Regions from separate parts of the Homo sapiens genome. Here regions 2, 3 and 4 are each linked to region 1. The links come from fine-mapping of genetic effects on gene expression. A gene starts in region 1. Each other region holds a variant in brackets. All regions are shown on one strand. Distances are between the middles of the regions.

Region 1 (5,436 bases):
TTAGGTGACATAGCAAGACCCTGGCTCTACAAAAAATTTTAAAAATTAGCTGAGCACAGTGGCATGCAGCCGTTAGTCCCAGCTACCCAGGAGGCTGAGCCTGGATGATGACTTGAAACAAGGGAGTTGAGGCTGCAGTGCACTATGATCATGCCACTGCACTCCAGCCTGGGGGACAGAGTGAAACTCTGTCTCTACAGAAAATTTTAAAATTAGTTGATTTTTAATTTTTTTTATTTTTTTTTTTGAGACGGAGTCTTGCTCTGTTGCCAGGCTGGAGTGCAGTGGCATGATCTCAGCTCACTGCAACCTCCGCCACGTGGGTTCCAGTGATTCCCTTGCTTCAGCCTCTCCAGTAGCTGAGACTACAGGTGTGTGCCACCATGCCTGGCTAATTTTTTTTTGTGTTTTAGTAGAGACAGGGTTTCACCATGTTGGCCAGGATGGTCTTGATCTCCTAATCTCGTGATCTGCCCTCCTTGGCCTCCCAAAGTGCTGGGATTACAGACGTGACCCACCACACCTGGCCTAAAATTAGTTGATTTTTAATCATTAATGGTGGTGCACGCCTGTAGTCCCAGCTACTTAGGAGGCTAAGGCAGGAGGATCACTCAAGCCCAGAAGTTCAAGGCTGCAATGAGCTATGATCACACCACTACACTCCCTATAAATATTCCTTTCCCTATGAATGCCTTCGCAGAAATGACCATAACTGATGATTAGCATTCTAGCTGCTGTGATTTATCTCTGGGAATGATGAACGTTGGGTGACTAGAAATAACCTGAGCAATAATAGCGTCACCTCCTGCCACGTCATCCCGAAAAATCTTGGCAAATATGATTCATTGCGTTATTCATTAAGTGTTTATGAAGATACTCTATAGCTTGAACTTGACCCTGTCTTCTGGGGACAGGACCTTTTCTGGCAAAGTATGACAATAAACCCTACTTTTAACATTAGTGGCCCGGCGCGGTGGCTCACGCCTGTAATCCCAGCACTTTGGGAGGCCGAGGCGGATGGATCACGAGGTCAGGAGATTCAGACCATCCTGGCTAACACGGTGAAACCCCGTCTCTCCTAAAAATACAAAAAATTAGCCGGGCATGGTGGCAGGCGCCCGTAGTCCCAGCTACTCCGGAGGCTGAGGCAGGAGAATGGCGTGAACCTGGGAGGCGGAGCTTGCAATGCGCCGAGATCGCACCACTGCACTCCAGCCTGAGCGACAGAGCAAGACACTGTCTCAAAAAAAAAAAAAAAAAAAAAAAAAAAACCAACACATTCATTTCCACTGAGCTTCTTTTCCCCTCTCTAGTGTAGAAAGAATCTAGTCAAACAATAACAATAATAATAAGTTAATAATAATAACAACAACAGTAATAAGCATGAAGACAGCACTATTTATTGAGTGCTGACATGCATGCCAGGCACAGGGCTATGCCCTTCACATGTATCAGCAACTGAATGCTCAAACAACTTTATGGGGAGGTATTATTATCCCCATTTTATGATTACATTGAGACCCAGAGAGGTTAAGTAACTCACTCAAGGTCACACAGCTAAACAGAGGCAGAATGGGATTCAAACCCATACCTCTCTGATTGCATACGCTGGGCTTGGATCATCATCATCAACAACATCATTGTTGGCAGTGCATGGTGGCTCATGCCTGTAATGCCAGCACTTTGGCAGGCTGAGGCAGAAGGATCGCTTGAGCTTAGGAGTTTGAGACCATCCTAGGCAATATAGTCAGACCTTGTCTCTACTAAAAATCATAAAAGGTAGGCGGGCATGGTGGCATGTGCCTATAGTCTCAGCTACTCAGAAGGCTGAAGCAGGAGGATTGCTTGAGCCCAGGAGATCAAGGCTGCAGTGAGCTATGATTTCACCACTGTACTCCAGCCTGGGCAACAGAGTGAGATATTGTCTCGAAAAAAAAAAAAAAAAACACAAAAATCACTTATCAGAGGAAGAAGAGAAGGATGAGAAAAATGAGAAGGATGAGAAGAATGAGAAAAATGAGAAGTTATTGTTTCTTGAACACCATAAAGAAGTAAATAGATTTTTTTTTAAATCTCAGAAAATGAAATACCATTGGGAGAGACCACCTGAATTCACTCATCCAACAAAGCATTCTTCTAGAACATGATGCTCCAGGAGACACCCCCAGACATAGAGGTCACATTTATTGCGTGTTTGTCGTGCACCGTATTTTATTAGCTCTGATATCCACCTGTGGAAGTGGGAGCTTTTGGCATACTACCCATTCTACAGACAAGGAAACCAAGGCCAGAAACATACAATAACTGACCCAGAATCCCACAGTTAGACCTGGGGAAGCCCAGATTCCAACTCAAGCAGATAACCCTAGGGCTTGTTCTCATAATCAACACTCTCTTGCCTCCCATTTCCCCTGGTCATTCTTTCCTCTAACAAACATCTGTTGTGCCTCAATTCTGTACCCTCGTCTGGCAATAAGCAATACGACAGCCTCAGTTTCCGTCCTCCTTCGCTGACACGTTCCCAAGCATTCCGCATTATTCCCATGACCTCCCACCCCTCCTTCAAAGCACTTTCACTTACCTGCCCTCAGTTCTACAGGAAAATCCAGACAAACTTCCCCTCCACTTTGTAGTTCAAAGCTAGAGGGACAGGCAACAGGTCCTCTTTTTTTCTTAACTAACCGGTAAGGCCCATCTTTTTCTGCCTCTCTGCCGTGTCGCCTTAAAGACTGCTCCTTGCTATCTTGGTCACACGTCTGGGCGGGAAGCCACGAAGATCACGGGAAGGGGGTTGTTTACTGAGCTCATTGCCGTTTTATGCCGCCCTGGCTATCATCTCTTTCCTCATCAACCAATGAGTAACCAGGTCTCACCTGGTGAAAATGCAAATCAGTCTTCCACCTCTACCATCACAGCTGCACCTATGGCCTCTGTCTACTGAGTCCGCGACGATGAAGGCCTAACTCAGGTCCCAAGTTGTGCATTTCCTTCTTCCTAAGCCCTAACTCCTCCCTCTCATTAATATTCTTTTGTTATCAGCTCAATGAAAATATCAAAGTCCTTTCTAGAGGTTATTTTATTTCTTGGACACCATAAGGAAGTAAATAGATTCGTTTTGTGTTTTTTTTTTAACCCTAGAGTGTGAGGTGGTGTGGGAAGAGACTACCTGAATTCATTAATCCAACAAAGAATGGAACGTGATGCTCCACTAGACACCCCCGGGCACTGGCTCCTTTTTTTTTTTTTTTTTTTTTTGAGACAGCGTTGCCCTCTGTCACCTCGGCTGGAGTGCAGTGCCACAATCTCAGCTCACTGCAACCTCCGCCTCCTGGACTCAAGGGATCCTCCTGCCTCAGCCTCCCAAGCAGCTGGGACCACAGGTGCAAGCCATCATGCCTGACTAATTTTTGTATTTTTTGAAGAGCTGGGGTTCTGTCGTGTTGCCCAGGCTGGTCTTGAACTCCTGAGCTCAAGTGATCCACCCATCTCGGTCTCCAAAACTGCTGAGATTACAGGCGTAAGCCACTGCACCTGGCCTGGACACGTTTTTCTTTTCTTCTTTTTTTTTTTTTTTTTTTTGAAGACTGAGTCTTGCTCTGTCGCCCAGGCTGGAGTGCAATGGCGCCATCTGGGCTCACTGCAACCTCCGCCTCCCAGGTTCAAGTGATTCTCCTGCCTCAGCCTCCCGAGTAGCTGGGATTACAGGTGTCTGCCACTACACCTGGCTAATTTTTGTATTTTTAGTAGAGATGGGGTTTCACCATGTTGGCCAGGCTGGTCTTGAACTCCTGACCTCAGGTAATCCACCTGTCTCGGCCTGCCAAAATGCTGGGATTACAGGCATGAGCCACTGCATCTGGCCGCCTGGCCACATTTTTCTATAGATACATCCCCTTTGGCAACATGCGGACCATACAGGTTTAACTCTGTAGTTATGATCACCAATGGCATGTCCCTTCTGGAAACAAAGGACAGGCAGTATAAAACCAGCCCACATTTCAAGACAGTTGACTCGAATTCAAATGCTGACTCTGGCACTCTAAGACTGTAATGTCTCAACTCCTCTGAGCCTCAATTTCCTCCCCATTAACCTACAAAGTGGGAACTATATACACTCCCTCCTCCTAGTGTTGATAAGGGCTACATCAGTTAACATTTGAGAAAGTTTGGACTAAGATTATTTCTAGCCACCTAAGACTCACATTCCCAGGGATAAACCCCAGCAGATGGGATGCTAATCCATCACAAAGGGTTTTCTCTGAGAAGGAGATTTTATATTCATACAGAAATAAAGAAGGAGGTAGACAATTGAGGGCTGGATCAAATTTCTGTATTTTTACAAATACCAGAACAAACAAAATCTGTTTCCTATGGCATTTGCATTTGGGGGAGTATCATTTAAAAGAAAAAAAGAATGTCCTAGTTCTATAATTCACAGAAAGTATTGGGGTCTATAGTTACCGTTCCTCTTTTTTTTTTTTTTCCTTTGAGACAGGCTCTTGCTTTGTCAACCAAGGCTGGAATGCAGTGGTGCAATCATAGCTCACTGCAGCCTCTGACTGTTGGGCTCAAGCAATCCTCCTGCCTCACTCAGCCTCCCAAGGAGGTGAGACTACAGGTATGTACCACCACATTTGGCTAACATTTTAAATTTTTATAGATATGGGGTCTCTCTACGTTGCCCAGGCTTGTCTCAAACTACTGGGCTCAAGTGATCATCCCACCTTGGCTTCCCAAGGTGTTGGGATTACAGGCATGAGCCACTGCACCCAGCCCCAATCTTTGATGTATTAGCACTAAATGCAAAACAGTGGCTTTCCAATGGAGAAATGGAATTTTCTCCTGTGGAAGAGACCTGAGTTATAAATTGTATGATCAGAGGAAATGAGAGGAGGAGGGTGGTGGTTTCCAAGAAGACAGTTTGGTTTGCCCCAAGAGCTGTCATTACTGGGGTGAAAGGGCAGTACCTGGCAGCATTTGACTCTAGGAACACCTGGATCGTGCGGTTCTGCCTGCCAATCATTGTGGAGCTGCGCCAAACGAGCTCCTGGCAAGAAGTCAAAGCAGTGATTTTGATTCTTTTGTAGCTATAAGTCAGGATTTCTCAACCTTGGCAGTACTGTCATTTGGGGCCAGACAACTGCCTGTTGTGGGGAGCTGGGGGGACTGCTCTGTGCATTGTAGGGTGTTTAGCAGTATGTCCGGCTTCTATCTATTAGATACCAGGAGGACACCCCAACCCCACCCCATCTGCAAGCTACGACAACCAAAAATGTCTTCAGGAATGGGCAAATATCCCCTGGGAGGCAAAACTGCCTCCCCCTGAGAACCACTGCTCTAAATGTTACCTAGTTCCATGGACAGTGTCTCCTCGCTCTCCATTGCGTGGGACAAGGAAATCAGCAACTCAACATTTTCTCTAATAGAGTTTTCTCC
Region 2 (5,436 bases), 21 kb before region 1:
CTTAAAAATGGCCTTAGGCCAGGTGCAGTGGCTCACGCCTGTAATCCCAGCACTTTGGGAGGCTGAGGCAGGTGGATCACCTCAGATTGGGAGTTTGAGACCAGCCTGACCAACGTGGAGAAACCCTGTCTCTACTAAAGATACAAAATTAGCTGGGCGTGGTGGCGCATGCCTGTAATCCCAGCTACTCAGGAGACTGAGGTAGGAGAATCGCTTGAACCCGGGAGGCAGAGGCTGTGGTGAGCTGTGATCGTGCCATTGCACTCCAGCCTGGGCAACAAGAGCGAAACTCCATCTCAAAAAATGAATGAATGAATGAATAAATAAATAAAAAACAACAACAACAAAAAACCGGCCTTAAAGGAATACTGAAAATGGTGAAAACTATAATTGATAAAATTAGATTAAAATAGTGCAGATAATCAGTGAATCAAATCTGCAGTAAAGTTTTGGTGAAAAGTCATCAATTCTGATAATCTCAGTAAAATAGAAATAAAAGTGTAAAAATCAGAAGTGGTGCAAACATGGCCGGGCATGGTGGCTCATGCCTATAATCCCAGCAGCTGGGAGCCTTCTTCAAGACTAGCCTGGGCAACATGGCAAAACACCATCTCTATACAAAAATAAAAACTTAGCCGGGCATAATAGGTGCACACCTGTAGTCCCAGCTACTTGGGAGGCTGGGGTGGGAGGATCAATTGAGCCCAGAAGGTTGAGGCTGTGGTGAGCTATGATTGTGCCACTGCACTCCAACCTGGGTGACATAGCAAGACCCTGTCTCAAGAAAAATAAAAAAAATAAGAAAAAAAAATGACCAAAAAAAAAAACAAAGAAGTGGTGCAAACATCTCATATAAAAAACTAATCGACTTCACGGAGTTAGATCTCCAAAAGATTTTCTGGATAACAATTCATCACTGTTGATGTAATTTTAATTAAAGTGTTTGGATTTATGAGCGTCAAGTCTTAACCTTGTTGGCTACGTAGCAGGGTCAAAACAGTGTGGATCTAGATGTCTTACAGGGATTGAATTAGGAAGAGGTGGGATAATGGGAAGGTGATCCAAGGAAGAGATGGTGAAAGATTAAGTTCAAGTAAGGGCTTGAAGCCTCAAACTGAGAGTCCATGGCCCAGGTAAGGTCTACAGATAGGTATGCGCATTTCACCACAACTTCAGGTCATAGAAACCGTCATATATATCCCTAATCTAAACCACACCAACCAAATTCCATTGACTTAATGATTCAGCACTCAGCATCCACTCCCAGTGAAGGGATATATATCTGAACTTACCCCCTGGTCATCTTTGGGGTCTCAGAAGAGCCATAATCATGACCATTCTCAGCATCTGAATAATCAGGTTCTCTCCAAGTGCTTGGCAAGTTCTGATTGTCCTCAGCACTGGGATAGTCTGGCTCCCCAAAAAAGGGTGGAGAGTTAGGTTGAATGTCAGCGCCTGGATAATCAGGCTTTCCCAGAGAGTCTGCGTATGGATTGATTCTAAAACTTGTATGTTCCAGATTCTTTCTGGATCCTGGATGGTTCAAATTGGCTCTGGGTCCAGGATGATCAGAGTTGCTCTGAGCTCCAGGGTAGTCCGGTTCTAAGGAGCCAAAATGATCTGGATGTGTTCTGGAGCCTGCATAGTTTCCACTGCTGCTGGAGCCTGCAAAATCAGGATTTCGTTGAGATCCAGGGTAGTCTGGTTGTCTGGATGATGCTCGGTGGTAGGGATGACTCTGAAATTCACTATAATCTGGCTCTGGTAGAGAGGTAGGATGGTCTGGGCTTGTTCTAGAGGCTGCAGAGTATGCATTGCTTCTGGTGCCAGAATAGTCTGGATTACTCAGAGATCTAGGATAATTTGGTTCTGCCAGAGACCCAGGATAGTCTGGACGTGTTCTGGAGGCTACAGAGTATGGATTGCTCCTGGTGCCGGGGTAGTCTGGATTGTTCAGAGGACCTGGAACATCTGGATAACCTTGAGTTTTCAAATACCCCTGCGTACGGTTCTGAGACCCTGAATAGTCAGGGTAATCTGGGTCTTCCTCAGACCAGTTATTCCTGTAGTAGGCAGACATGTTGGTATGGACTCTTCACCCTGGAGTGGTAAACTGTCCCAGCATTTGCAATTACTCAGGGATCTTTTTTTTTTTTCACCTGAAAAACAAGAAGAAAAGAAAAAGTCAGATTTTTTTCCCTTTCTTCCCTGCAGAGATTGCTGGTTATCTTCCAGTATCTGTTCTCCTTT[C/T]GTTCGTAGTCAGGTACACAACTGCCTAGAATAAAGACTATGTTTCTAGATTCTCTTGCACCAAGGTATGAACATGAGGATGGTCAATGGGATGAGAGCAGCAGTGATACCCACAACTTCCCAGCTGTGCTGTTAGAGGAAAGAGGTTATTTCTCCCTTTCTCCATCTTGCTTCCTCTGGGCTGGAATGCGGAAATGACGGTGCACCATCTTGGGTCATGCACACAAAGCCAAGACCTGCATTTGGGATAAATGCACAACAGAGGAAAGGATGCTGGGTTGCTGGTGACTTCACAGAGCACAGCCATTGTATCAGCTAAGACTATTATGTGAGAGAGAAATAAAATTATCTTGTTTAAACCACTGTTTTTGTGGTCTTTAACACATGCAACTAAGCTTTCATCTTGAACAATATATTCCCTTGGTTATGGGGGAGGGGACCAGTGAACCAAAGGATTGAAAGAAACAAGGACTTTTTGTGCTTTTTGATTACACTTGAGGTTCTAGGGTTCAAAGCATAAATTAATATAAGTGCATAAAAGAAGAATGGTTAATGGAAACTAGAGGACTAGGGTAAGTAGACAATTGCTATGACCCCTTCCAGTTTGAAAATAAGATTTTATGAGCTCCACCAGCTCTGATCCACAGACCACAGGATACTTTTGTCAAATTTAGCCCAAAGCTACCTCCTAACATATTTTAAGTTTGGCCTAAAGATTTCTCTGTACATAATGAACTGTGACCTAACTAAGAGGTGTCAACAGACTATAACCTACTCTTGTACCAATCACTGAATTTTGGCCAATCACAGGCAACCAATTGTTCAAACTGTGTTCAAATAAGGCAAATGCTGAGCTGTAACCAATCCATTGCTCCTGAACCTCACTTCCATTTTTTCTATGTCATCTCCCTTTTCTTGTCCATAAATCTTCTTTGACCCAGCATGTGGCAGCACCTAAGTCCCTCAGAACCTATTCTGGCTGGGGAGGCTGTCCCATTAGCAAATCATTCTTTGTTTGATTAAACCCTGTTACCTCTAGTTTGTCTAAAGTTTTTCTTTTAACACTTTGAAATAAGAGGTGATGCAGTTTTAATTTTCTTTTCTTTTCGTTTTTCTTTTTTTGAGATGGAGTCTCACTCTGTAGCCTAAGCTGGAGTGCAGTGGTGCAATCTCGGCCCACTGCAACCTCCGCCTCCTAGGTTCAAGCAATTCTCCTGCCTCAGCCTCCTGAGTAGCTGGGATTACAGGCGTGCACCATCATGTCCAGCTAATTTTTGTATTTTTAGTAGAGACAGGGTTTCACTATGTTGGCCAGGCTGGTCTCAAACTCCTGACCTCAGGTGATCCACCCGTCTCGGCCTCCCAAAATGCTTGGATTATAGGCATGAGTCACCATGCTTGGTTGAGTTTTCTTTCTTTCTTTCTTTCTTTCTCTTTCTTTCTTTTTCTTTTCTTTCTTCTTTTTTTTTTTTTTTTTTGACAGGGTGTCACTCTGTCACCCAGGCTGTAGTACAATGGTACAATCATAGCTCACTGCAGCCTCGATCTCTTGGGACTCAAGCGATCCTCCCATCTCAGCCTCCTGAGTAGCTAGGACCACAAGCATGCATCTTGTGGTCCTAATTTTTTCATTTTCTGTAGAGATGGGGTCTCCCTATGTTGTTGCCCAGGCTGATCTTGAACTCCTGAGCTCAAGTGATCCTCCTGCCTCAGCCTCCCAAAGTGCTGGGATTACAGGCGTAAGCCACTGCACCTGGCCTCCAGTTTTCATTTCTAAGTGTGTTGGATACCTGTTGTTTTTACTTGCCTACTCTCCCTCGCTCTTGGTCCAGGTGATTCAGGAAGGGCTGACTGTACTCCTGACTGGCTGGTCAGGATGGTCACATGACTCAGGTGTCCACCATCCCCCTGGCCACAGAGTTTGGCTCAAGAATGGGCATGTAAACCCAGTCAGTCCTCCAGGACCAGGACAAGGCTTACTGGGAAAGAGGTGCTCTTATTTCACTGGGGTGGCTAAGGGGATAGAATATATACATAAGCCTGGAGCTTCCAATGTCATGTCAGAGGGAATAGAGAAAAAGAGTAATTAGTAGGGCAGAAAATTTAAAGAAAGAATCAATAGGATTTGTTGGCTGATCCAGTAGGGAAAGGATGAGAAGGAAAATAAAAGTCAAGCATATCTCTACAGTTTCAAGCCAGCATGATGAGATGAACGGCAATATTTTTGAAATAAGGAAGTAGAACATTTTTAAAGCTCAGCCAACTTTTACAAGTTTATCTCTATGTAAATGACAAGGGTTAGACTTGAGTAATCAGAGCTACGATAATATTAACTTTCTGCCAACACCTACAGTCTCAGAATGTCCGTGTGCCAACCCACATCCAAATTTCTCAGCATAGTTGACATCTGTGTTTCATTATTGTGTCCCTGCACAGCATCCATTTCTCGCTTTTGTGGTTAACACTTTTCCCTGGGTAACACCTCTCCCACACAGTCAGTCCCTGTGGGCCAGGTGTGGAATATGACCCATCAGAATTATTTTCTTCCTGGAGACAGTGATTCTGTCAGAGCATACAACCCAGTTAAAGCCAGTGAGATTCAATTCTGGGAGTTTTATCAGAACTGTAGGGAAGAGAGAAGCTCTGCCTTCTGCCGGCCTTGGAGCTAGGAAATTTTACTTTATTTTATTTTTTGAGACAGGGTCTCACTCTGCCGTCCAGGCTAGAGTGCAGTGGCATGATCACAGCTCGATGCAACCTCGACCTCCCAAGCGTAGGTGAGCCTCCTCCCTCAGCATTCTGAGTAGCTGGGACTACAGGTGTGCACCACTATGCCTGGTTAATTTTTGTATTTTTATAGAGACAGGGTTTCTCTATGTTGCCCAGGCTGGTTTCAAACTCCTGAGCTCAAGCAATCTGATCTCGGCCTCCCAAAGTGCTAGGATTACAGGTGTTAGCCACTGCAACCGGCCAAAGTTAGGAAATTTTAAACCTGAAGCTGCCAGTGGTCACCAGTAGAGAAGGGCCTAAGAGTGATGCTAACAGGGAGGAGAACAGAACCAAGAGATAAACAGAAAGAGGAGCCAGATGTTGATGACATTGTCAGATGTTGATGACATCATTTAAACACCTGAATCCAGCCAAACCTGAAGGCAGCTGGATACTTGAGTCATTACATTCTCTTTT
Region 3 (5,436 bases), 73 kb before region 1:
ACCAAATGCAACATGTACCCCCTTTTCAGATCCTGATTTGTGCAGTTCTAGTATAAAAAGACACTTAAGGGGACAGTTGGGGAAATGTAAACATTGGATATAAGATGATAATAATAAATTATTGTTAAGTTTTTTAAGTGTGATGATGATATTGTAGTTATTTTTAAAAGTCTTTATCTCAGCTGGGGGCGATGGCTCACACCTGTAATCTTAGCACTTTGGGAGGCCGAGGCGGGCGGATCACCTGAGGTCGGAAGTTTGAGACCAGCCTGACCAACATGGAGAAACCCCATCTCTACTAAAAATACAAAATTAGCCGGGTGTGGTGGCAGGCGCCTGTAATTCCAGCTATGCGGGAAGCTGAGGCAGAAGAATTGCTTGAACCCGGGAGGCGGAGGTTGCAGTGAGCCAAGATTGCTCCACTGCACTCCAACCTGGGCAACAAGAGTGAAACTCTGTCTCAAAATAAATAAATAAATGAAATAAAAGTATTTATCTTATAGAGAGATATATATATATATATATCTAAGTTTTAATAAATAAAAAATAATATAAAGCCTAAGATTTGCTTTAAAATAATCCAGGGAGCCAGATGGAGTGGCACCTGCCTGTAATCTCAGCTACTCCGGAGGCTGAGGCAGGAGCCCAGGAATTTGAATCCAGCCAGGGCAACATAGCAAGACCCCCACCTCTAAAAAAATAAAATAAGGCTGGGTGTGATGGCTGTAATCCCAGCACTTTGGGAGGCAGGTGGATCACCTGAGGTCAGCAGTTCGAGACCAGCCTGGCCAACATGGTGAAACCCTGTCTCCACTAAAAATTCAAAAATTAGCTGGGCATGGTGGCAGGCACCTGTAATTCCAGCTACTTGGGAGGTTGGGGCAGGAGAATCGCTTGAACCCTGGAGGCAGAAGTTGCCGTGAGCCGAGATTGCACCACTGCACTCCAGCCTGGGCAACAAGAGCAAAACTCTATCTCAAAATAATAATAATAATCATCATAATTAAAATAAATAAATACTAAGAATAAAAATAAGGGATTTGCTGGGAAGAGAAAGTGTAGATGAAATAAGAATATAAAAACATTGATGGTTGTTAGGGCTGAGAGCAGGGATATGAGAGTTCATTGTAGTATTCTCTTTATTTTGGAGGATGTTTATACAGCGTTTAAAAAGGGTGAGGGCGGACATCAGAGGGATCCAAGGGGACTTACATTAATGATCTGCTCATGGAGCAGCCTTATCATAATCTTCCTTCCCTCTGTGATCTGCCAGTAAAGATAGGTGATGATTCTGGAAGAGGAGAAAAGAAAGAATGACACTCTTGCAAATGTTTTGCAGGCTCTGAATTTCCACTGGATGCAAAGGAACTGGAATCTGTGCTTGCAGATGGATTTGGCCCAAACATGTTTCTGAAAAGTCATGTCAGGGAGAGTTATAGGTTAAATACATTGGAACAATGGTTCCTGAAGGGGGAAATAAGCCCATGCCACAGCTCCTCTTCAGACCAATTAATTGAGCATCTCTGGGCATGTCATCTCCTTAAGAGGAGAAAAGCAGGTATTGCTTTCTTAATAGAATAAGTTAAAAAAAAAGTCCCTAAGATGACCCAGCACGGTGGCTCATGCCTGGAATCCCAGCACTTTGGGAGGCCAAGGCGGGCGGATCACTTGAGGTCAGGAGATCGAGATCATCCTGGCTAACACAGTGAAACCCTGTCTCTATTAAAAATGCAAAAAATTAGCTGGGCGTGGTGGTGGGTGCCTGTAGTCCCAACTACTCGGGAGGCTGAGGCAGGAGAATGGCATGAACCCAGGAGGCGGAACTTGCAGTGTGCTGAGATCGCGCCAGTGCACTCCAGCCTGGGTGACAGTGCGAGACTCTGTCTCAAAAAAAAAAAAAAAAAAAATCCCTAAGACAAGAAGATAGTATATATAACCTTTCCCCCCTTCCCCCAGTGATGGGGTCTTGCTCTGTTGCCCAGGCTGGAGTGCAGTGGCACGATCAGAGAACACTGCAGCCTCAAACTCCTAGGCTCAAGCAATCCTCCCATCTCAGCTTCCCAAGAAGCTCAGACTACAGGCACAAGCCACTGCACCAGGCTAAGTAACTTCAAAAAAACTATCAATGCAAGCTTGGGCAAGGTGGCTAACACCTGTAATCCCAACACTTTGAGAAGCTGAGGCAGGAGGATAATTTGAGGCCAGGAGTTTGAGACCAGCCTGGGCAACACAGGGAGACCCCATTTCTCCAAAAAATTTAAAAATTAGCCAAGTGTAGTGGTGCACACCTGCAAGCCCAGCTACTTGGGGGCTGAGGTGGGAGGATGGCTTGAGCCTGAAAGGTTGAGGTTGCAGCAAGCCATGACCATGCCGCTACAGTCTAGCCTGAGTGAGAGATCATGACCCTGTCTCAACCAAAAAAGAAAGAGAGAAGTAAGGAAGGAAGGAAGGAAGGAGAAGGGGAAGGGAAGGGAAGGGAGGGGAAGGGGAAAGGAAGGGAAGGGAGGGGAAGGGAGAAAGAAGGGGAAGGGAAGGGAGGGGAAGGGAGAAAGAAGGAAGGAAGGAAGGAAGAAAAAATGAAGAGGAAAGGAACGGAACTGAAAGGAAAGGGAAGGGAGAAAGGGAGAAAGAGAGGGAGGGAGGGGAAGGGAAGAGAAGAGAAAAGAAAAAAAGGAAGGGAAGGAAGGAAGGAAGGAAGGAAGGAAGGAAGGAAGGAAGGAAGGAAGGAAAGAAAACTACCTATGCAAGGGTAGAGTCACCCAGAACACTGAGCTATGCTATAGCCATTTGCTTTCCAACCAAACATCCCTACTGCTGTTTCCCTCGAGAGCTCCTGGCTTTCCCTGCTAGATTCCCCGGGTACCACACTCACAGCACAATGAGGGTGAGGATGAAAAAGAAGTGCACACTTCCAATGAGGTTCCGATAGATCCAAACAACCCACAGGTAGCCAGGCCGTGTACTTAGGGTGTCGATCCAGCTGTAGATGGAGTGAATGAAGAGAGGCAGACCTCGAAAAGGGCCACAGTCAGCTGAAGGCTTCAATCTGGTAAAACAAAGATGGAAGAACATCTCTAGCACAAGACTCAGGGATGGTTATTCTAGAATCAGGGTGTCCCTTCTGGGCTCTGGGCCTGAAAACATCAAGTCTTGCCTGATCCAATCACACCCACTTCCCAAAGAAACCCTCTTGCTCTCAGCCTTGCTGGGGTGACCTGTACTCTAAGGACC[T/G]GCTCTCAGATCAGAGCTGACCCAACAGCAGCCAATCCAAAGGCCAAGCAGTGACTTCTGCAGTAACTTGGCTCAATGATATGAATGGGGGCAGTCAGACTTTTTTTCTTAAGAAGTTGAATTAAGGCCAGGCACTATGGCTCATGCCTCTAATCCCAACAGTTTGGGAGGTCAAGGTGGGAGGATTGCTTGAGCCCAGAAGTTCAAGACCAGCCTGGGCAACATAGTGAGACTCCATCTCTACAAAAAAATAATTAGCTGGGCATGGCAGCACATGCCTGTGGTCCTGGCTACATAGGAGGCTGAGGTGGGAGGATCACTTGAGCCCAGGAGGTTGAGGCTATAGTGAGCTGTGATCACACCACTGTACTTCAGCCTGGGCAACAGAGCAAGACCCTGTCTGAAAAAAAAAAAGAAATGAAATTAAAGACAAGTATGGTGGCTCGCCTGCAATTCCAGCACTTTGAGAGGCCAAGGCAGAAGGATCTCTTGAGGCCAAGAGTTCGAGACCAGCCTAGGCAACATAGCAAGACACCCATTTCTAAAAAAAAAAAAAAAAAAAAAATTAGCCAGGCATGCCAGGCGCGGTGGCTCATGCCTGTAATCCCAGCACTTTGGGAGGCCGAGGCGGGTGGATCACAAGGTCAGGAGATCAAGACCATCCTGGCTAACACGGTGAAACCCTGTCTCTACTAAAAATACAAAAAATTAGCTGGGCGTGGTGGCGGGCGCCTGTAGTCCCAGCTACTCAGGAGGCTGAGGCAGGAGAAGGGCGTGAACCTGGGAGGCGGAGCTTGCAGTGAGCCGAGATTGCGCCACTGCACTCCAGCCTGGATGACAGAGTGAGACTCTGTCTCAAAAAAATAAAAAATAAAAAAATAATTAGCCAGGCATGGTGATGTGTGCCTATAGTCCCAGCTACTCGGGAGGCTGAGGTGGGACAATCACGTGAGCCCAGGAGTTTGAGCTGTGATTGCGCCCCTGCATTCCTGCCTGGGTGGCAGAGCAAGGCCCTGTCTCAAAGAAAGAAATTGAATTAAGAAGCATAAAGAGGGAAGCCTGTTAGCTATGGAGGAATGAGCAGAAACTATAGGGCAACAAGGAACTGGTGAGGAAGAGAGAGAAGAGAGTGGATATGCCAAGAGGAGCAAGGGCGTTGTGGAGCAAGGAAGAGAGAGAAGAGAGTGGATATGCCAAGAGGAGCAAGGGTGTTGTGGAGCAAGGAACTGAGAGCCCCAGTTTCACATGTGTCCTAAAAATCATCTCCCTTGTTCATTAATTCATTCAATTGTTCATTCAACCATGGCTTATTCTGTTAAGCACTGTTCTAGTCAGGCTCTGGGGACTTCATATTAAGCAAGTTCCTGCCCTATTGGGATTACATTCTGGTGGGAAAAACGGACAATCGTTGAGTAACAATTAAAGACTCACACAGAGGCATTCCTGATTATGAATGATAGAATGAAGGAAAGAAACTCAGGTCTGAGAGAGAGAAGCAGTGGGGAACTGAGAGCAGACAAGGAGGGCTGTGAAGATCAGATCTTGGAGAGGGCCTTGGAGCTGAGAATCAGAGGGTGGAGAGGAGGCAGCCAAGCAAAGGGAGTGGGAAAAGGACTTCACTCAGAGGACTCTGCCCTTGTTGGGAGGGGCTTGCTGGCTTCCAGGAATGGGGTGAGGGTGGTGGGGCGGGGAACAGTGGAGCCAAAGGGAAGTGGGGTTGGAGAGGTGGGAGGAGCCAGATGAGTCCTGCCTTTCTGTTAATTTAGATGAAGTTCTGTTCTGGATGTGGAGGAACGGGGTGGGGGGGCATCTCCCCATTCTGGGAAGCTTCAGTTCTTGGCAGAAGTGAGAAAGCTACTCCTGACCGTGGGCATCGGATGGGTGGTGATCAAACTAGGATGCATTCCCTCCCTGGCTTTTAGTGTCTGTTGGTTAGCCAGGGAACTTGAGTTAGGCACTGTATTAAGCATGTCTTTTTATTCTGATGTTTTGACATCTGGGGTCTTACTGACTCCAGCTCCCAGGGCTAGCTGCCCTTCCCTGGGCTAGCTTACAAAGCACACCTTTCAAATGCAAACCAACCAATCCAGATCCCACACCCGCAACCGCCCCCTTTATCAGGCTCTCACACTCTGGGCCACCACTCCCCTGCCCTAATCACCCCAGGGCCAGGTGCCAGACAACTCAGGGCGGATCCATATCCCA
Region 4 (5,436 bases), 35 kb after region 1:
AAATCTTCGGGAGACATCTTTTAGCCTACCTCAATCCCAGCTACTTTTCTAGGTACCTCCTGAGAACAAAGACATCCTCCTAAATGGTCGTCTTCTATTCCTTCAAACAGGAGATTTAAGAGACTGTTGTTTCCTGAAGAACTATCCAATTTCTATTCCTGTAAAATTGTTCCTCTTCTGGGAGTGGGAAGTCTCCTTCAGGAACCTGGTTCATTCTTCTGCTCCTGGAAGAAAAAAACTGAGGTCTCCCTGGCTCAGGTGCAGATCCAAGTCAGGGCCAGGTGCCAGGTGCCAGGTGCCAGGTGCAGCCAGCAGGAAGTGCTGGGTCTTCTCTCTAAGGTCACTGCACAGTCACCACTCGCCTCCATCACATTCCATCTTCCATACGTGGAACAACTGGGTTCCACCCATCCCTTTCCAGATCTGCAGGCTGGGACTGGGGGTGGGGAGGTGGCCTCCAGTAAGGAAGGGAAGAGGGAGGAATTGTCTCACAATAGAAATAGCCATCATTTCCTGACACTTCCTCTGTGCCACAGACTTAAAGATCATTTTTTAAAATTTGAGCATGTATTAGTAATATGTCTATTTAGTAAAAAAAAGGGGTAATCAGTAAAATTTTCCCTGCCCTTGTCCTGAGATGTATGATGCATTTACAAACATATACACATATATTCTTGGTTTTTTAACCCCAAAGGTGGCTTACCTGGCATCTTGTTTTGTTTTGTTTTGTTTTGTTTTGTTTTTGAGACAGTGTCTCACTCTGTCACCCATGCTGGAGTGCAGTGTCATGAGCATGGCTCACTGTAACCTTGAAATCCTGGGCTTAGCAATCCTCCTTCCTTAGACTCCTGAGTAGCCAGGACTGCAAGCATGTGCCACCATCCCTGGCTAATTTTTACTTTTTTATTGTTTGTAGAGATGGGTGTCTTGCTATGTTGCCCAGGCTGGTCTTAAACTCCTGGACTCAGACGAACCTCCTGCCTCAGCCTCCAAAAATTCTGGGGTTATAGGCATGAGCCACTATGTCTAGCTTCCACCTTGCTTTTTCACTTCATAATATACCTTCTATAGGCTGGGCGCAGTGGCTCACACCTGTAATCCCAGCACTTTGGGAGGCCGAGGCCAACGAATCACGAGGTCAGGAGATCGAGACCATGCTGGCTAACATGGTGAAACCCCGTCTCTACCAAAAATACAAAAAATTAGCCGGTGTGGTGGCGGGCGCCTGTAGTCCCAGCTACTCGGGAGGCTGAGGCAGGAGAATGGCGTGAACTCCGTAGGTGGAGCTTGCAGAGAGCCGAGATTGCGCCACTGCACTCCAGCCTGTGCGACAGAGACTCCATCTCAGAATATTAATAATAATAATAATAAACCTTCTATAAATATAATTTTCTATATATCTACATATAGAGGTAATTGCTGCACAGATGTGTCAAAATTTATTTAATCCATCTCCTATCGATGGAAATATAGGCTGCCTCTAGGCAATTGTTCTTGCCACAGCCCTGAGACCTAAGCTCTAGTCTTATATCCTCATTTTATGGATGAGAAAACAGGCTCAGAAAGGTTGTGGCATGTGGTCCAGCTCACACAGGAAATAATCGGAAACCAGGTTCTCATCCAGTGACCTTACCCTTAACCACAATGAAAATAGCTTTTATTTTGAGCCAGGAAATTACTTACCCACACACATAATTTTCTGTTTTAGAACAGTTTTAGATCTACAGAAAACCTTTGAGGATAAGATAGAGACTGCGGCCCGCAGTCCACCACGGTAGGGCCATGGGGAGTGCTCATAGGGAAGGTGTTCCTGGCATCCGAGGGTGCACGGAGGGAGCCGGGTGCTATAAGCTGTGCCCGGTCACTGCCGCCTCCCACCCTCAGCGCCGGGTGCTCCCAGCTCTGGGGGATAGCAGGTGGTAAGGGTATCTTCCTTATTCCTGCTCCCTCCTCCAAAGTGTCCTCATCCAACCCAGACGGAGCCAGCCGACATCTCAGCTAGCCTCTCAGCCAGACTCTCAGCCAGCCAGCCTCTCACTCAGCCAGGAAGACTGCCCGCTAGCCTCTCGACCAGCTTCTCAGCCAGCCCACCAGCATCTCAGCGGGCCAGCCAGCCTGCTGGCAAGCCTCCAAGACAGCCACTCGGCCAGCCTCCCAGCCTACCCCTCACCCAGCCTCCCAGTCAGCCACTTAGCCGGCCAGCCATTTAAGACTGAGCCCAATCTCTCTCCCATTGCAAAATTTCATTACTATGTTCCCTATACCTATCATGATGGTCCTGAAAAATCTGCCTTACCGTATTTTAACATGTGCCATTGAATAATTTTTTCTTCTACAGAGGTAGATGCTATTATTAGAATCACTTTATAGAGGAGGATAAAGAAGTACAGAGAGTACTGTCTCAGATTCCCTGTCTCAGGTGCCCGGGCTCATGTACAGTCTCAGGTGCACTGCCTCTCTCTTTAGCCAGCTGGTTCCCCAGCCAACGGTGCACCCTAAATCCCCAGGGAATGACAAAGTTGAGAGATTGGGTGAGGCTCAAATGCCATGGATGTTTTTAGTTATGAAGAGCTCAAGTCATCTCTAAACCTCCCAAAAGCCAGGGGTAGTCATTTCACAGAGCAACCAGTATGGTCCTTGAGGTCCCTCAGGCATGAACCTGGCTGTTGACTCTGGGTCTATTATAGAAATTCCAGATGAGAACTCCACTTTCAAGGGCAAGCACCAAGCCCTCACTGCCACTGGTAAGCCCTCTGTTCTTATCAGCAA[G/A]CTGTGAGATTATGCAGTTTTTGTGTTTGTTCTCCTTGTGGTAGATGATTTCAAATTACATGAGAATAATTTATGACCAATTTGGGTTGCATTATTCAATCAGGATTGCAGGGGTGGCAGAATCACCAGGTCAGCTCAGGCTTTGGGTATTTCTTTTTTCCTTTTCTTTCTTTTCTTTTTTTTTTTTAAGACATGGTCTTGCTCAGTCTCCCAGGCTGGAGTGCAGTGGCATGCTCATGGCCCACTGCAGCCTCCACCTCCTGGGCTCAAGCAATCCTGCTACCTCAGCCTCCCTAGTACCTGGGACTACAGGTGTGCACCACCATGACTGGCTAATGTTTGTTTTTAGTAGAGACAGGGTTTCACCATGTTCCCAGGCTGGTTTTGAACTCCTGGGCTCAAGCGATACACCTGCCTCGGCCTCCCAAAGTGCAGGTGTGAGCCACCATGCCAGGTGGGTATTTTCATTAAAAAAGGCAAAAGCCCTTGCTGATGGGAGCTGCATCAACTAAAACATGAATTCACCATAATTGGTGATTTTTGCCCCCTGAATCCTAGTCATAGTCCAAGTGAAATAGCAAGACACAAACAGGGGCATTGGCCAACAGCCTAGTTCTGAAGGAGATGGAGCAGATGTGGACACGTGGAGTCAGGCTTCCAGAAGTCATCAGGTGGATGTGTGAAGTCAGGCTTCCAAGGCAGCTCACGCGCATGGCTGTTGGCTGGGGGCCTCAGTTTCTCACCACACTGATATTCCCACAGGGTTGCTTCAGCGTCCTCACAACAGGATGGCTGACTTCCCCAAGAGAGCAGCTCAAGAGAGAGCAAGGAGAAAGACACAACATCTTTAATGATCTATGCTTGGAAGCTATATGTTGCCACTTTTGCAATATCCTACAGATCGCTTAGCTCCATCCAACATGGAAAGGGATCAGACACGGGCATCATTGCCAGATGATAATCCCTGATGGTCATCTTGGATGCTGGCCACCACAGTTACATTTGAGGTGAGTGTGGCAGGAGCAGAGCACATCTGGGGCAGATGTGGCAGGAATGAAGGATGGAAAAGGAGCTAAGGTTGTGAGTGTCTATTTAAGCCAAAGATGAGAGTTCTAGCTGGGAATAAACAGACATTACTAATATAAGAGTGTGACATTATCATGTTGGCATTTTATTTTTATTTTATTTTATTTTTGAGACAGGGTCTTGCTCTGTCATCCAGGCTGGAGTGCAGTGGCACAATCATAACTCACCGTAGCCTCAAACTCCTGGGCTCAAGTGATCCTCCATCTCAGCCTCCTGAGTAGCTGGGACTACAGGTGTGCACAACCATGCCCAGCAAAAAAAAAAAATTTTTAATCAGAGTCTTGCTCTGTTGCCCAGGCTGGAATGCAGTGGTGCAATCATCACTCACTGCAGTTTTGACCTCCCCAGGCTCATGTGATCCTCCCACCGCAGCCTCCCAAGCAGCTGAGACTACAGGTGTGTGCCACCATGACCAGCTAAGCTAATTTTTGTATATATATATATATACATATTTTGGTAGAGATGTGGTTTCACCATGCTACCCAGGCTGGTCTGGAACTCCTGGCCCTAATGCCTGCCTTGGCCTCCCAAAATGCTGGGATTACAAGCATGAGTCGCTGTGCCCAGCCTCATGTGCTCATTCTGAGGGAGATATTACAGGATTTGGTGATTGAATGAAGGAGGAGGAGGGAAAGGAAAATATTTCTGATGACAGTGAGGATTTTAACATGTTATGGTTTCAGAAGACACCATCACCCAGGGAGGCTTGAATATATCACCTGACTCAGTTACTGATATGCATCTCTCCTTCCTTAGCAAATGTGAAAACCTCAATTTTTTTTCTTGTTACCCTGCTCTTTCAGGCTGCTCTCCACCCCCAAATGTACTGCCAGCTGCTGTTTATTTAGGAAACGAAAGCTAATTTTAGTGTTAGCTTTAGCCAACCCTAATCTCGAAGCAAATCAGCTGCAAGTACAAGGGGCTTCAGAGTCAAACAGAAATACCTTTGGACTTACCTGCTGGACAAAGTTATCTCAATACTCCCCAGCACCGCTCTACTATGGATCTAAAAATAATGATTTTCCCTGCTGAATTTTGAAAATATCATGTTCACTGTATTTGCTTTATCCTCCACCTGGGATGCTCTTCCTTCAGTTCTCTGCTCAAATGTCATCGTATCAGTGACAGATGCTGAACTCCTTATGTAAACTAGCACCCCACTCCACCTTCTTGGGTGGAAAATCAACCACTTTGATTTTCTTCATAGCACCAATTGCCGTCTGACAAATGACATATTTACTTGGCAAGCAGTTTATTGTATCTCCTCACCCCTTTCATAGATTACAAGCCCCATGAGGGCAATGACCTGTGTATTTTGGTCACTGCTGTATCCCCAGAGGCCCCTGAAACAGTGGAATACCTCAATTTCTATTTGCATAATGTCATCCAGGGCTGGCCAAGGTGGAAGGCCTGGGATATGAAACCTTTAAACAAACTGCTGGTGGCAATGTTGCTTGAAATCAACTTTCTGAAAAGTAATTTGACTTGATACTCTCTTTAAAAAAAAATTAAGGTCAGGTGCAGTGGCTCATGCCTGTAATCCTAGCACTTTGGGAGGCCAAGGCAGGAGGATTACTTGAG

Evidence for each region. PIP is the estimated chance that this variant, and not a neighbour inherited with it, causes the effect.
Region 2: its variant is fine-mapped to the expression of TMC5 in whole blood (INTERVAL, PIP 0.96).
Region 3: its variant is fine-mapped to the expression of TMC5 in whole blood (INTERVAL, PIP above 0.99).
Region 4: its variant is fine-mapped to the expression of TMC5 in thyroid (GTEx, PIP above 0.99).

What each region holds. Positions count from the first base shown.
Region 1 is chr16:19,415,238-19,420,673 of GRCh38, reverse strand. TMC5 (transmembrane channel like 5) reads right to left here and starts at 2,791. Exons shown (of 22, transcript NM_001261841.2): 1 at 2,582-2,791.
Region 2 is chr16:19,436,683-19,442,118 of GRCh38, reverse strand. TMC5 (transmembrane channel like 5) reads right to left here. Exons shown (of 22, transcript NM_001261841.2): 3 at 1,293-2,159. The coding sequence starts at 2,080. Among named protein-coding and RNA genes, the nearest start is that of TMC5, 22 kb to the right of the region's middle. The variant C/T (reference allele first, on the strand shown) is at 2,251.
Region 3 is chr16:19,488,005-19,493,440 of GRCh38, reverse strand. It overlaps TMC5 (transmembrane channel like 5), which reads right to left. Exons shown (of 22, transcript NM_001261841.2): 18 at 2,873-3,046; 19 at 1,213-1,291. Among named protein-coding and RNA genes, the nearest start is that of TMC5-AS1, 2.8 kb to the right of the region's middle. RefSeq lists an enhancer at 4,745-5,433. The variant T/G (reference allele first, on the strand shown) is at 3,232.
Region 4 is chr16:19,379,770-19,385,205 of GRCh38, reverse strand. All of the region lies in intron 1 of LOC105371114 (a long non-coding RNA gene), which reads left to right. Among named protein-coding and RNA genes, the nearest start is that of TMC5, 35 kb to the left of the region's middle. The variant G/A (reference allele first, on the strand shown) is at 2,770.